Regions from separate parts of the Homo sapiens genome. Here region 1 is linked to region 2. Evidence: fine-mapped expression QTL. Tissue or cell type: whole blood. Region 2 holds a variant in brackets; the other region holds the start of a gene. All regions are shown on one strand. Distances are between the middles of the regions. Region 1 holds the start of ZNF264 (zinc finger protein 264). Region 2 overlaps ZNF264 (zinc finger protein 264).

What was found.
Region 1: it holds the start of ZNF264, and the variant in region 2 is fine-mapped to the expression of ZNF264 in whole blood (TOPMed, PIP above 0.99).

Annotation. Positions count from the first base shown.
Region 1 is chr19:57,188,095-57,196,430 of GRCh38, forward strand. ZNF264 (zinc finger protein 264) reads left to right here and starts at 3,406. Exons shown (of 4, transcript NM_003417.5): 1 at 3,406-3,852; 2 at 5,781-5,907. The coding sequence starts at 3,820. RefSeq lists enhancers at 3,242-3,301, 3,322-3,411, 3,422-3,481 and a silencer at 3,652-3,921.
Region 2 is chr19:57,220,869-57,229,204 of GRCh38, forward strand. ZNF264 (zinc finger protein 264) reads left to right here. Exons shown (of 4, transcript NM_003417.5): 4 at 1-1,978. Among named protein-coding and RNA genes, the nearest start is that of AURKC, 6.0 kb to the right of the region's middle. The variant T/A (reference allele first, on the strand shown) is at 5,052.

The DNA of each region.
Region 1 (8,336 bases), 33 kb before region 2:
ACATATGTTTATGCAATATGAAGCAGAGCAGGAGTTTCATGGACTGTACTAATTTATTTCATGATAAATAAAAATATTTTATTATATAGTATATTAAGCCATCTTAGAAGTCACTGTTGATGATTTTTTTTTCTCCATTAACTGTGGAGCCAAGAGGGTAAAAAGTATCTTTCATGAGTTAAGGATTCATGCAGTTGAGAAATGGAATTAGGGAGAAATGGAACACACACACACAAACACAGAGATTTATTTCAAGTACTGAATTTATTTTATTATTTTTTGTGTGTGTTTGAAACATTGCTGATTCTTTTTGTTTTGTTTTTGAGTCAGGAGAACTTTTTTTGTAAATCTACTTTCTGTCTCTATGAAACTTTTTTCTTTCCAGCTATTTATAGCCTTTAACAATTGAATATACATTTGTAAACAAAATTTGAGGGCTATTTCTCTCTCTGCCTGATTTCTCCAGAATTCAGAAACTATTTGTGAATATTCTTAATTCACGGCAATGTGGTTGTTTGCATATGTTCAATAAGAATCTGTTTTCTAGCTAGGTGTAGCATATGTTCAATAAGAATCTGTTTTCTAGCTACTTGGGAGGCTGAGGCAGGAGGATCGCTTGAGCCCAGGAGTTTGAGGCTGTAGTGAGCTATGATCGTGCCACTACACTCCAGTCTGGGTAAACAAGCAAGACCCTATCTCTATTTTTTAAAATCCATATTATTTTATAACACAATTGTAGGCACTGGGTCTTTTCCCAAGGCTTTGACAGGAATGGCATATTTTTAACTATGCGAGACTGCTTTGAGGAATTAAGACTGACTTTATGGGCCAGGCGTGGTGGATCATGACTGTAATCCCAGCACTTTGGGAGGCCAAGGCGGGTGGATCACGAGGTCAGGAGATCGAGACCATCCTGGCTAACATGGTGAAACCCCATCTCTACTAAAAATATAAAAAATTAGCCGGGTGTGGTGGCAGGCGCCTGTAGTCCCAGCTACTCAGGAGGCTGAGGCAGGAGAATGGCGCGAACCCAGAAGGCAGAGCTTGCAGTGAGCTGACATCACGCCACTGCACTCCAGCCTGGGCGGCAGAGCAAGACTGTGTCTCAAAAAAAAAAAAAAAAAAAAAAAAAAAGACTGACTTTATGGAGCTGATGGGAGCCCTTGGAAGGACTGGCCTCATATCTTGTGCACACAGTTCCTTTGTGGGGTTCCTGGCCTGTAGTAAATACAGTGTCATTTTCTGATAGGCCTAGGAACCTCAAGATGTTCTGGGGCCTCAAGAAAAACGGGTTTCACCCAATTCATGCAGGTATGTACAGGTGCAGACAGATCTTTGGCTGGGCTTAAGAGGTCTTTGGGTGTTGAGTCTGAGAGATTCCTTATGAGGGGTTCCAGCAAAGCCAATTTAGGAGGAATTGTATAAACAGTGATTCTTGCTGTAGTTTGGATAAGTATGGTGGGACTGAAGCTTGTTTTGCAGGTAAGTTGTTCCTGCTGTGATTTGCTTTTGATGGAAGTCAGGGACTAGAGAGAGAAAAACTGTTTCCAAAGAAAACTATAGTGCTGCCAGGTGCAGTGGCTCAACTTTGGGAGGCTGAGGTGGGCGGATCATGAGGTCAGGAGTTTGAGACCAGCCTGGCCAACATGGTGAAACCCCGTCTCTACTAAAAATACAAAAATTAGCCAGGCATGGTGGTGGGCACCTGTAATCCCAGCTACTCGGGAAGCTGAGGCAGGAGGATCGCTTGAACCTAGGAGGCAGAGGTTGCAGTGAGCGGAGATCGTGCCACTGCACTCCAGCCTAGGTGAAAGAACAAAACTCTGTCTCAAAAAAAAAAAAGAAAGAAAGAAAGAAAACTATAGCGTTAGATTAACCTTTGAGTTAATCTGAGTGGCCACGTGGTCATCTATGGTATGCAGCCACCCACAATACCCCTCCTCAGCATAAAGCAGCCAGAAAGATCACGTCCAGATTCCCCATGATTGAGGAATTGATAAATAGAAACAGGGAACTGAAACCAGCTCCAGTGTCCCATAGAACTGATATTTATGGTTTCTTTTGAATCAACACATTATAGACATTGAGCCTCCCCTTCCTAAAACTCGAGACACTTTTATTTGTCTTATCTGATTTCCTTTCTCAGGAAACCAAGCATCAGGCCTCCCAGATAGTATAAAGAAACTGAAACTTACTGGATTACCACATCTGGAAAAACGAGATGCTATACCCCTTACCCATGATGATTGCCTAACTGACCATCTGCTGCCTGTTGACCCATTCCTCTTCCTTACCCCTTCCTAATTCCTGTTTTCTCAAACATAGTTACACTTCTTCCCTGATGTATAAACCCCTAGTTTTAGTCAGTTGAGGAAAGAGATTTGAGATTGATCTCCCATTTTCCTCAGCTGCAGCACCGAATAAAGCCTTCATCCCTGACAATACTCATTGTCTTGCTGACTGGCCTTCTGTGCAGCAAGCAGCAGGATCTAGATGCAAGGACCTGGCCTTTCTGGTAATATTGTCATCAACCATTTAATGATGTAGACTTGGTCCCCGGCTCATGCTCTGTGTATTTTCTTCTCCATCTACATGCATTGCCTTGATGGTCTCACTCAATATCATGACTTGAAATAACAGTGTAAGGTAACTCCTAAATTCATATATTCATGCTCAAACCTTCTTCCAACATTCAGTCGTAAGTCGAATTGCCTGTGACAGAGATACTTTGTGGTTCTGTAGACATTTCAAACTAACCATCCTGAGCCTCCGAACCTCCTCCACTTGCAGCCTCCCCACCTCAGAAGTGGGCAAATCCACTTTTTGTGTGGTCTGGGCCAAATACATGACTCCCTGCATCACGTAGAGGCTGTGCTGGTCCAAAGAAGGCTCAAAAGAGGGCAGTTTGCGCACACAACGTGTCGGGGCAGGGCTTCCAGATGATCATTCGGCTTTTTTGTGTCTTCCAAGATGATGATCCGGGGAGGAGGGATGTGAAAGGGGGTCAGTCGCCAGGCGAGCTGAGGACCCAGTTCTGCGCCTTTGCCTGTGCCCTGACCTGAAGGAAAGTCCCTGTCTCCCGAGCTCCGATTTTCCCGAGAGAAGAATGCAATGTAACCCTTGCCCCTCGGTTCCCTCCCTCCATCCTTCCCCTCGAGTTGTGCCCACCGTAAAGAGGTGGGTCTGGAGCGTCTCCTCGGGTCCTGGAGTGCCTTTCCCTGGGAGGAAAACTTGCGCCGTGAAGCGTTCCTCCCGTTGTTGAACACATGAGGAAAACTACACTACTTAGAAGGCTGTGCATTATGCGTACGGCGGGAGCTGGGCCAACGACGGCCTAGGACGGGGACGTTTCCGACGGCTCACGCCGGTGGGGGCGGGACTTCCGGGTTGCTCGCTGCGGACGCCATTTTCTTCTGCACTTCTGTCTGGAGAGGTCTGTAGCCACTGAGGGCCCCGGTCGGGGCCGCTTTGCAGGTCCCTAGTCAGGACCGAGCAGGGGAGTAGGATAGGAATCCCCGCCGCACCTTTGTACGAGCCTGACCCCTTCCGTGGGTTTGTTCCTGGGTCGCCGTCAAGCTGCGGTCTCTCCTCCCCCGCCCTTCAGCCCCGCGGTCTCCAGGGGCGGCGCCCTGGGTCTGGAACGCGGTTGCCACCGAGGAGGCGGCGGCCCTGCGTCTGGAACGCCGTTGCCACCGAGGAGGCGGCGGCCCCGAGCGCGCCTGGAAGCCCCGGGCAACCGGCCAGGGTCGGGCACAGGTGGGGTCCGTCAGGCCGCCCGGGGCTCCTCTGTCCCAGCTCTGCGGCCCAGGGGGTGACGTGATGGCGGCAGCGGTGCTGACGGACCGGGCCCAGGTGAGTGGACGGTGGCTTCGCGGTTGCCGCTTCCTTGCCAGCGCTGAGGCGGTTTCCGAAGTGGGTGGGAGCCCAGGTATCCCCTGGATTTGTCTTCGCAGTCGTCGTTCGCTTTGGTGTGTGGAGCTGGTTTGCCACTTAATTTATACCTGGCCGTAAGGAGTGTTGGGCCTACTGGAAGGAGCTCCGTAGGTTGTTGAGTGAATGATGCTTCCTCTGGGGACTCCCATCATCCTTGGCCTGCAAGCATTCTCTGGTGGACCAGGTCTCATTCCAGCATGAATTGGGGGCCTGAGGGGGGAAGGGGAGGGCAGGGCAGTAGCAAGCCGACAAATGCGCGAGCAGAGACAAGGTATGTTGTATGTTTAAGGAGGCTCAGGAGGGTGTGTAAGGTTGCCATGGTTTTCCTGCGGCCGCTGAGACGTGGAGGGCAACAGTGTGTGGTCTTTTCCTGGATGTTCTAGCCATCCGCAACTACTGCAGACATTGTGGCCAGTCAGATGCCCTTACTCTCATCGCTACAGCCTGCATTATCCTTGGCCGCTCGTGTTCCGTGGCCCCAAAGTATCCTGGCGTCAGAGACAAGTTCTGTCGGAACCCAGTAAGGAAAGAGGCCGATGGTTGGTTCATTGTGGAATTTCCTTGGGGGATCTGGGAGACCCAGGGAGATCCCAGAGGGCATGGGAAGCTGGTCTGGAGCCTGTCGTTCCCCAAGTAGATGCAGCCCTTCCAGTGCCGCTCTGTGGGGTCAGTGAGGAATGCTGAGCTTTTTGTGCCCGTGTTCACATACTTTTTTTTGTTTTGAGACAGGGTCTCACTCTGTCGCCCAGGCTGGAGTACAGTGGTGCACTCTCAGCTCACTGCAGTCTCTGCCTCCCAGGTTCAAGCAATTCTCCTGCCCCAGCCTGCCGAGTAGTTGGGATTACAGGCATGCACTACCACACCTGACTGATTTTTGTATTTTAGTAGAGACTGGGTTTCACCATATTTGCCAGGCTGGTCTTCAACTCCTGGCCTCAAGCGATCCGCCCACCTCGACCTCCCAAAGTGCTGGGATTACATGCATGAGCCACCATGCCCGGCCCACAGATACGTTTTTCAGGGCTAATTGAAATAGACTTAATGTTAGAAATGAGTGGAAATGCTTATAACTTCATCGCATTAGATTTGCTTTGATGTTGGGGGAGTGTTGGAGTTACACTGTTAGACCGTGAATCATAGTAACCCCATGTTTAGATCCTATCTATGGTGGTGAGATGTGTGACTGGGTGAATTGATAGCGCTTCCTTAGCATGAAGTCATTGACTGTGAAGGTGATGATGGTGTTGACTGCAGGGACTGTGAAAGGATTAATAAAAATCCCAGAGCACACTGAGCATTGAATACTTTAAATTTAACAACTGTTACTGGTGGGAAGTGTTATTGTATTGATCCAGAAATCAAGGCTCAGAGAAATGAAATGCTGTCTTTGAGGTAAGAGCTGTCAAGTGTCAGTTTCAAGTGTTTGGAGCTAGGAACTTCTAGTCACTGTGTTTACACAGGATGTGAAGCCTTCAACATGGGGCAGGCACCTAGCTGGACCAGTGAGACTCAGGTACTGCCGTTGTAACCATTATTGCTATTATTACCATTTCCCCATTTCCCTGTCGTTTTAGAGCCCTTAGCTTCTGTATTTCACAGTCCACAAGTTGTTTCCGTTGTCCTGTGTCATTCTCTAACGGCCGTTAAATAGGAGGCTTCTCTCCTTTACTCTGGTATTATGTTAAAAGCATCTATCTTCCCTCTTGAGCCCAGCACAGAGCTAGGCCCTCAGGAGGTGCTCTGTGATTCAGGCCGCCATCACTGTACACCTTTTCCAGTGGAGCACAGTCTGTGATCTCATTCAGCAGCTGAAAGGCCAATACTACTAATTCTGTTTGACTTTCCAGGTGTCTGTGACCTTTGATGATGTGGCTGTGACTTTCACCAAGGAGGAGTGGGGGCAGCTGGACCTAGCTCAGCGGACCCTGTACCAGGAGGTGATGCTGGAAAACTGTGGGCTCCTGGTGTCTCTGGGTAAGGCCTTCCTTCCCCCTCCACCATGCAGGTGACCTGCCACTTCCTTCATTCCATCTTCTGACTCCAGGCCTGGCTGCACAAGAAGGCCTCTAGAATCTACCTTGCCTCTTTCCCACAGCTTTAGTCATTTTCCACAGTAACCTCTTCCTATCTGGTCTCCTATATCTCTGGGCTAAAGACAGGGTACTCTTTGGCTCCCAGCCAAAGGAGAAGGTGGTAAAAGGAAATGGGGTGTTTTGCAAACTCAAAGGTAATTTTCAGCTGTGCCTCATGAGGGGCTGGTGTAGGAACTGAGAACCACCACGATGGTGTCCTGGCTTCTCTGTCTGGGTCTGCTCATGTCACGTCTATTCTCTATGGCTTTTTCTGCCTTAGTGAGTTCAAGACAAGAGTGGCCACCTGGATTAGGGTTCTCTAAAGGGACAGAACTAATAGAATAGATATATATAAAAAGGACAGTTTATTAAGTAGTAATAACTCATGATTACAAGGTCCCACAGTAGGCTGTCTGCAAGCTGAGGAGCAAGGAAGCCAGTCCAAGTCCCAAAGCTGAAGAACTTGGTGTCCAATGTTCGAGGGCAGGAAGCATCCAGCATGGGAGAAAGATGTAGGCTGGTAGTCTAGGCCAGTCTAGTCTTTTCATGTATTTCTGCCTACTTTATATGCTGGCCTCGCTGGCAGCTGATTAGATGGTGCCCACCCAGATTAAGGGGGGGGTCTGCCTTTCCCAGCCCACTGACTCAAATGTTGATCTCTTTTGGCAGCACCTTTACAGACACACCCAGGATCAATACGTTGCATCCTTCAATCCAATCAAGTTGACACATTAATAAAAATCCCAGAGCACACTGAGCATTGAATACTTTCTCTTTAAATTTAACGACTGTTACTGGTGGGAAGTATTATTGTATTGATCCAGAAATAAAGGCTCAGAGAAATGAAATGATGTTTTTGAGGTAACAGCTGTCAAGTGTCCGTTTCAAGTGTTTGGAGCTAGGGACTTCTGGTGACTGTGTTAACACAGGATGGGAAGCCTTCAACATGGGCCAGGCACCTAGCTGGACCTAGCTGTTAACCATCACAACTCCATCCCTTGTCAACTTGAACCCATACACATCTCCTGAGATCATACATAATCTTCAAATAAAGACAATAAGGTCATAATTATGCTTAACATAATACAAGTATCGTTCATGCAACCGAAACACACTAATCCCCAACCCAAGTGCTATTACATAAAGGTAGCAATACTTAAATGCTGATATGAAGTCAGTAAATCTTACGTCACATGATAAAGGAAATAAAATGCAGATGTTTTCTTAGTACAAGTGTATACATCACAAACATGTTTTTAATAAAAGAAGGAGGAAATACAACAATTACAGTCCTCATTTCTGCAACTGGTCACTTGGTCGTAGTTGGTATTAATGACTACCTTCTTCTCCTGCACATTCTGTATTCACTTTGCCTTCAGCAAGCACCTCAGCAGGTCATGGTTTTTTTTCCTGGTGGAGTGACCCAAACCTTCATTCCTGAAGGGTCTGGGCCATTTGTAGTCCTGCCTGGATTGGGCTGTTGTAGCTTCCCATTGACCTTAATCACAGGGCATGGTAATACTAAGAGATGCCCTAATGGATCTTCTGTATTCCATGCATACTCTTCCTTACCTCCATTGTGGAGTAGTAGACTGATTTCATCTTGATAGTCTGGGTCATTCATCCCAGCCAACACTGTAACTCCCTTCTTAGGCTATTGACTTAAAGGTAGGAGGAGCCCAAAGTGTCCAGGTGGCAATCTTAACTTCCAGTTTAATGGAATCGTTGTGTCTCCTGGTGGCAGCATTCCTCCCTCTGAAACTAAGACTTCTAGGCCAACGGAATGTAATGTCGCGGGAATAGGAAGCAAAATTTTGCTAGTTGATCACTAGGGATGATGTTGAGTGGTGCCATTTGCACTTCCACCCCTTGATTCCTGGACCCATGAATCCTGGCTATGGGAGAAACAGTACCATATATTGGATGCTAATTCAGAGCATACATGGCCTACTGGAGAACTTTGCCCCAGCCCTGCAAAGTATTGTCACTAGTTGGAGTAATTATGACTACAAAAGGTCATTCCACCATTCTGTCAATCCAGTTGCTTCAGGACTATGGGGAACATGGTAAGATCAGTGAATTCTGTGAGCATGAGCCCACTGCTACACTTCTTTAGCCATAAAGTGAGTGCCTTGGTCAGAGGCAATGCTGTGTGGAATACCATTACGATGGATAAAGCATTCCATGAGTCCGTGAATGGTAGTCTTGGCAGAAGCACTGCGTGCAGGATAAGCAAACCCATATCCAGAGTAAGTGTCTATTCTAGTGAGGACAGACCTCTGCCCTTTCCATGATGGAAGAGGTCCAATATAATCAACCTGCCGCCAGGTA
Region 2 (8,336 bases):
CCTGACCTCAGGTGATCCACCCGCCTCGGCCTCCCGAAGTGCTGGCATTACAGGCATGAGCCACCACACCCAGCCTTTATTGCAATTTTTGGTTCCCTCACAGAATGTTTACCATGAAGCTGTGCGTATAGGTGGTACCATGTATGACATACCTTGACCTCAAAGATAATCTACCTGGGCTTTTTTTGTTTGTTTGTTTTGAGATGGAGTCTCACTCTGTCACCCATGCTGGTGTGCAGTGGCGTGATCTTGGCTCACAGCAGCCTCTGCCTCCCGGGTTCAAGCGATTCTCCTGCCTCAGCCTCCTGAGTAGCTGGGACTACAGGTGCCTGCGACCACACCCAGCTAATTTTTGTATTTTTAGTAGTAGTGGGATTTCACCATGTTGGCCAGGATGGCCTCCACCTCCTGACTTCATGATCCACCCGCCTCGGCCTCCCAAAGTGCTGGGATTACAGGCGTGAGCCACCGCACCTGGCCTACCTGGGCTTTTTTGGACAGATGTACATGATTTTAGAAATTGTTATGAATGACTGTCTTGGGATCCTCAAGAACACCCCCAGGTTTGACGATTTGCTGAGAAGACTCAGGTCTCAGCATTCTGTCATACTCAACAGCTATGATTTACTGCAGCAAAAAAATACAAAGCAAATAGTAAAGGGAAAAAGCCAAAATTCAGAGAAAACCAGGCACAATCTTCTGAGTCTTGTTTCAGTGAAGTCACAGGATGTGCCTTATTTAAGTTCCATCTGGTACTTATGACAACACATGCTATATGTCCACTGGGAAGCTTATTAGAGACTCAGTGCCAGGGTTTTTATTGGGCATGTTTTCTAGCACATCCCACAATTCTGGACTTCCAGAAGGTTAGCAGGGGTTCAGCTTTTCAGCTGAAAACGTTATCCCCCTTTCAGCTGGGGGGAAAAAAAGGCACCGAAAAACAGGGCAGTGAGCTACTCCTGTTTTGGGTGGGTGGAGCAGTAGTAAGCCTCCCAAAATCTAAGGTCCCACACTCCAGCAAGGGTGAACCTTGCAAACTCAAAAGGATAGCAGTCTCCAACCTGCTGTTTTATACAGTGACTTAAGTGGTACTAAAATGCTATATAAGTCAAATTTACGTAACATTAAGCAAATAATTTTTTTTCAGCAAAAAAATAATGGTCATGACTTTGTGGTGAAGGCTTATGTAATGATTGTAATAAATTCAGGTGGCTCACGCCTGTGATACCAGCACTTTTGGGAGGCTGAGGCGGGTGGATCACTTGAGGTCAGGAGTTTGAGACCAGCCTAGCCAACATGGTGAAATCCCATCTCTACAAAAATGAAAAATTAGCCGGGCGTAGTGGTACATGCATTTAGTCCTAGCTACTTGGGAGGCTGAGGCAGGAAAATCGCTTGAACCTGGGAGGCAGAGGTTGCAGTGAGCCGAGATCATGCCACTGCACTCCAGCCTGGGTGACAGAGTGAGACTGTGTCTCAAAAAAAAAAAAAAAAAAAAAATGCCTCAGTTTTGTTAAGAGGAAAAAGCAAATCCTAAGTTACAGTGGAACTTATGAACACCCTAGCCTAGAGATTTAATTTAGTGATGAAAAGGTACAGAGAGAGTCTTTCAAGAAAGGACCTAGTCTGCTCGCGTTCTCTCTCTCTCTCTCTCTATATATATATATGTATATGTGTGTGTACATATGGACCACTTCAAGCTACACACACACACACACATATACACGTGTATGAATATATATATATGGCTATAAGTGGTGCGACTTGCAGGTACTCCCTTTGTTCACCTTTGTAAAGATGTTATTGCCAGTTCAGTGTGTATTTCTATAGTATATATGTAAACAATTTGTCATCCTTTTGTTGCTGCTTTTGAAACTAGTTCATGGCTTCAGTGGGGGAGAGATTTAAATAATATGGGTTTATAATTTCTGCATTATTAAATGCAGATAACTTGTGATTAAAGAGTATGTTATTGGAATCATGTTTGCCTGAGTTTTACTTTGGAGGAGTTGAACAGCTGACTCCAGCCGAGAGGTCCCCTACAGAGACGGGATGTTGGAGACCCACGGGAATCTGGCTTGTGGGAATTGCACAGCACCCTTTTTATCATACCGCAGCATGGCCTTTCCTGTCTCGATTGTGGGAAGCTGGAGTGCCTCTGCAATGTTCAGTAGTGTGCTTGGGTTTTGAGGGTCAAAGATTTTTAATCTTTGCCACAGGCATGTTACACATCTTAAAATTGTGTGGTCTCAACTGAACTGCTCCAAGGAGAAGAAACACTGCCTTGGGCGCCCAGTGTTGGATTACAGGTGTGAGCCACCACACCCAGGCTGTATTGCCACTTTCGAGCGAAGAAATGGGCAAGGCAGAATAAACAAGTTATGAATTGGCTAGTCTGAATAATTTCAGGGAGCTCCAGAGTATATAGACTGCTTTTAGCTAGTAACTAGTACTGGGGTACTAGTTCCCAGCTAAAAGTAACTGAGTAAGAAGGGGGATAGTAGCTCCACATGTGAGAACTTGCCAAAGACAGTTGAGGGGTAGGGCTGTGGAATGGCTGGTTTGCATGTGACAGGCAAGATAGCGGAGGAGAAATACCCTCTTGAGTAAGGGTTACGAGCCATGGGCCTTGTGTTGACTGGCCAGGTGACTTTAATGAAATTTTGTCACCCAGGCTGGAGTGCAGTGGCACATTCATAGCTCACTGCAGCCTCAATCTCTCGGGCTCAGGTGATCCTCCCGCCTCAACTTCCTGAGTAGCTGGGATTACAGGTGCTTGCCACCATGCCCAGCTGATTCTTTTTTTTTTTTTTTAAATCTAGAGATGAGATATCTGTGTTCGAAACCCAGTCTGGTGTCGAACTCCTGAGATCAAGTGGTCCTCCTGCCTCAGCCTCCCAAAGTGCTGGGATTACAGGCATGAGCTACTTTGCCTGGCTCAGCATGTGTTTTTATTCTGATATTTTGACAAATGAGACCTTGCTGATCCTGGAGACACTGCTCCTCTTAGAGGTAGCAAAAGTCTCCTCCGCTTTTGCTAAGTTATGAATTGCTAAGCCAATTCATAACTTGTTTATTCTGCCTTACCCATTTCTTCACTCGAAAATGGCAATACAGCCCGGGTGTGGTAGCTCACACCTGTAATCCAACACTGGGCGCCCAAGGCAGGAGGCTCACTTGAGGCCAGGAGTTTGAGACCAGCTTGAGCAACATAGCCAGACCCCATCTCTACAAAAAAAAAAAAAAAAAAAAAATTCACGGGGCACAATAGTGCACACCTCTAGTTGCAGCTACTTGGAGGCTAAGATAGGAGTGTTACTTGAGCCTGGGAGTTTGAGGCTGCAGTAAGCTGTGACTGAGCCACTGCACCTCAGCCTGGACAACAGAGCAAGACCCTGGCTCTTTAAAAATAAAATGAAGAAATGATAACACAGGCTTTACCCACACTTTCCCCTTCCTCCTGTCTCCTAACCAACCGTGAGTCTTCCCTGTTTAGCCCTGTGTGGCTTCATATACCCCCTCTTCATGGGAACTATGAGTTACACACTCATCAGTGGCAGTCTTCTGATCTGTTGGCATCGTCAACGCTAAATAATAAAATCTACATTTTAAAAAACCTACCTGAAAGCACTCATGAATTTCAAGAATTTAGCAAAGCAAATCAGCCATTTCCATGTCATTTCCAAAGAACTGTGTCAGTGCACCAAGCCAAATGTGATACTTAGGTTGGAACTCAGTGGACAGCCATGGAAGGAGGAGGGGGTCAATGCCAAAGAGGGGCTCTCCAGATGCATTGGTAGGACCCAGGCGTTTGAGGGACCATTGTGTTAGCAAAATCTCAACCATCTGAGGGGTTGGGGTTTTTAGGAAGGTAGCTCCTGATGCCCTTCTCATAGCCCGACACTCAAGAAAGCTCAAGCACAACTAATTGAGGGCCCCAAATACACAACACCTTCCGATATCATTCTCCCCGGGCCACTTCTTAATGTTTGCAAGTTTGAAGGAAGAATGCCATCTCCCGGCCCGACCACATGGTGTTTTCTTGATTATCCTCCCTTTCATGGGCATCCTCCCTCCTTTCTTAAGCCTTTAGCCATTTGTAGCTGTGTGGTCTTTCAACATCTCTGTACTCTTGTTCTTCCTAGTTCCATGTCCTGGCTCTCAGGTATAAGAACTCACATATGTTCAAAGTGTGTCTCTTGATCTTTGAAATTAGGCTTCAGCAGTGACAGTAATCTTTTTTCATCTCAGTTTCTTGACTTTTGGCATACATGTCATTTCAGCCACCTACAAGCCTATTTTCCATCTGCATGTTCTTTTGCTGTGTGTGTGTGTGTGTGTGTGTGTGTGTTTGACATAGGATCTTAGGCTGGGCGCGGTGGCTCACACCTGTAATCCCAGCACTTTGGGAGGTCGAGGCAGGTGGATCACTTGAGATTAGGAGTTTGAGACCAGCCTTGCCAACATGGAGAAACCCCGTCTCTACTAAAAATACAAAAAATTAGCTGAGTGTGGTGGTGCATGCCTGTAATCCCAGCTACTCGGGAGGCTGAGGCAGGAGAAATGCTTGAACCCGGGAGGTAGAGGCTGCGGTGAACCAAGATTGCGCCATTGCACTCCAGCCTGGGCAACAAGAGTGAAACTCCATCTCAAAAAACAAAAAACAAAAAAAAAATAGGGTCTTCTGATCATGGCTCACTGCAGGCTCAGCCTCCCAAGTATCTGAGACTACAGGTGCACATCACTATGCCCAGCTAATTTTTAAATTTTTTGTAGAGATGGGGGTCTCCCTGTGTTGCCCAGGCTGGTTTCAAACTCCTGGGCTCAAGCAGTCCTCCTCCCCTGGCCCCCAAAGTGCTGGGGTTACAGGCATGAGCCACCGTGCCTGGTCTTCATCTGCATGTTCTTTTGTCATTTTCAAACCCTTTCTGAATTATCCTCACACTTCTTGAGTATCAGACATCACCAGTCTGATCTTCCATATGTCCCTATGTCTGTATGGGCTTCTCCAGCTTTGAGTTCTTTGTCTTTTCCTCACTCTCTTCCTCTAA[T/A]GGAGGAGCCTCTTGGGGCTCATGTCACGCTCCCATTACCTCTTCCTTGTGTTATTTCTCTCCACGTCCCGCAACTCCCCTCTCCTTGTAAACTCCCCGGCTACAGCACCACGCTTTTTACCACTCTGGTGAAGGTCAGCAGTGGCTCCCTGTTTATGAATCCTAAGTCCTTGTCTTTTCTGGGCTATGGACAGGACTTGAAACTGTTGTTGTCCAGTCCTTTCTCCAGATGTACTCTTGGATTCTGTAAGGTTATGCTTCTGGTTTTCTCCCCTGCACCCTCTCACTCCTTTTCCCCTTTCATGTTGGTGCATCCACGTGTATCCAGCCATTTGGTGTTGAATTTTTTTTCTTTTTTTTTTCTCTTTGAGACAGAGTCTTGCTCTGTCTCCGGGCTGAAGTGCAATGGCATGATCTCGGCTCACTGCATCCTCCGCCTCCCAGGTTCAAGTGATTCTCCCGCCTCTGCCCCCTGAGTAGCTGGCATTACAGGCATCTGCCATTATGCCCGGCTAATTTTTGTATTTTTGTAGAGACGGGGTTTCACCATGTTGGCCAGGCTGGTCTTTAACTCCTGACCTCAGGTGATCCGCCTGCCTTGGCCTCCTAAAGGGCTGGGCTTACAGGCATGAGCCACCGTGCCTGACCGGTGTTGAAATTTCTAAGGCTTTGTCCCAGGCCTCTTTTTTCTCTTACTGGTCTCTCCCCAGGCCTCATCTGCACTCTTGGGTTCAGCTACCTACTTTAGTGAACATACCCTAAAACGTATTTCCCCAACCCTCATCTCATACAAGTCTTACTGCTCTCCTTTCACTCCATGCTTCCCTTTCCTTTTCCCACTCGAGATGGAGCTTCCACCACCTGCTTTGCCCAGTTAGCAAATGTGTATCCTTCATTTTGTCCCAGAGAGCACACCTTCACAGAAGCCCACTAGAGCACCCAGCTAGCTCATACCCATTCTTTCATGATTATCTATTGATTTGTTTGGTTATTGAATAATGACCGTATCCTGAACTCAATTTCCAGCTTCGAAAAAGCACAGACCTTGATCTAGATTTTCTCCTAATGTTCCATGTGCATAGTTTGTAGTCAATAGTATGTATTCAGATATTTGTTAGGTGAATGAGCCTTAATCATTTTTGACATTTTAGGTTATGTGACATTCTCTCCCCAGTACCACCTCAGGCTCGATGATTTGCCTGAAAGTCAAAATTCAGAAAAGAAAGTCACACACAACTCAGAAAAGCTGTTGTACTCATGGTTACAGTTTATTACCACAAAAGGATAGAGACCAAGATCACCAAAGGTAAAAGGCACATAGGAGGAAATCTGTGAGAAACCAGGCACAATTTTTTTTCTTTTTTCTTTTTCTTTTTTTTTTTTTTTTTTTTTGAGATGGAGTCTCGCTGTGTCACCCAGGCTGGAGTGCAATGGCACAATCTCGGCTCACTGCAACCTCTGCCTCCCAGGTTCAGGTGATCCTCTGCCTCAGCCTCCCAAGTAGCTGGGATTACAGGCATGTGCCACCACACTGGCTGATTTTTGTGTTTTTAGCAGAGATGGGGTTACACCATGTTGGCCAGGCCAGTCTGGAACTCCTGACTTCAAGTGATCCACCCGCCTTGGCCTCCCAAAGTGCTGGGATTACGGGTGGAAGCCACTGTGTCCAGCACAGGCACAAACTTAGCAGGTGTTCCCTCCCAGTGCAGTTGCACAAGGGCACACTGAATTCTCCCAGCAAAGTTGTGTGCAACACATTCACAGTATTGCCAGCCAGGGAAGCTCCCCCAAGCCTTGACGTCTAGAGTTTTCGTTAAGGGTCATTGAGGTAGGAATGCAGAACCCACATGAATAACCATAAATATCCAGTCTACAACCCTTGCAGAAAACAAACATATAGCATGGCCCAGGGCCTCATGCATGCAAAAGCCAGCATCCACCATGAATCATATTGTTAGCATAAATTATCTGGTCAAACGTGCAGCAGGACCTACTTATGGTTTTCGACATAAAAATCTTACCAGGCAAGATACCCCAAGAGGTTGTTTTCCTGAAGTTGGCCCTAATTCATTCTAGGGTCAGATATCAGATAGCTGCGGACAGTGCCTGTGTCCTAAAACCTGCCAACATTATTCACAGTAGCAAATCCTATTCTGTTTATGCTGCCCCTGCCCTGCCTTGCCTTGCCTTTCTGGTGGAAAACACAGCGCAGGCTCTGGGCCTTGCTTTCTCCTCTGCTGCTGCTTTCTAACCTGCTCTGGTGCTTCCACCCGCATGGTGTGCTCTGCCTCCTGTTTCTAGGGATCTCTTACTATAAACTTCCTCCATAATAATCACTTCTGTATCTGATTGTCACACCCTGCCTGACTAAATACAATCCCAGGTATATTCTAGAATACACAGGGAGCCTATTACAACATCCTTGGGCCAGGCGCAGTGGCTCGCGCCTGTAATCCCAGCACTTTGGGAGGCTGAGGCAGGACTGCTTGAGCCCAGGAGTTCAAGACCAGCCTGGGAAATATAGTGAGACCCCATCTTTAAAAAGAATAAATTTTTAAAAATTGGCTGGATGTGGTGGCATGCACCTGTGGTCCCAGCTACTTGGCAGGCTTAGGTGGAAGAATTGCTTAAGCCTGGGAGTTCGAGGCTGTAGTGGGCCATGATGGTGTCACTGCACTCCAGCCTGGGTGGAAGAGTGAGACTTTGTCTCAAAACTAAAAATAAAAATATGACCTCCTTACTGTGGCCTCCAGGACACTACAGAATTCACGTCCATCTATCTCTGTGATTCAGTTTATCTTCAGCTGCAGCCATACTAACCTTGTTGCACTTCCCCAAACACGACAGGATCCTCCTGCTTTCATTCCCTTGTCTTAGGTGCTCTCTCTATGAGACCCTGTTACCTCAGATGCTCCATTCCTCCAAGTCCATGCTCAGATATAACTGTCTTTTAGACATTTCCCAACTACTCTACCTCCCTCTAACCTTCTATATTGTTTACTTTTGTGGTTGTGGTTGTTCTTTTTGAGTTACTGATTGTTGGAATTAAAAGGTCCCCGAGGGCCAGGGACAGTGGCTCACGCCTGTAATCCCAGCAATTTGGGAGACTGAGGTGGGTAGATCATCTGTGGTCAGGAGTTCGACACCAGCCTGGCCAAAATGGTGAAACCCTGTCTCTACTAAAAATACCAAAATTAGCCGGGCGTGGTGGTGTGCACCTGTAGTCCCAGCTACTTGGGAGTCTGAGGCAGGAGAATTGGTTGAACCTGGGAGGCAGAGGTTGCA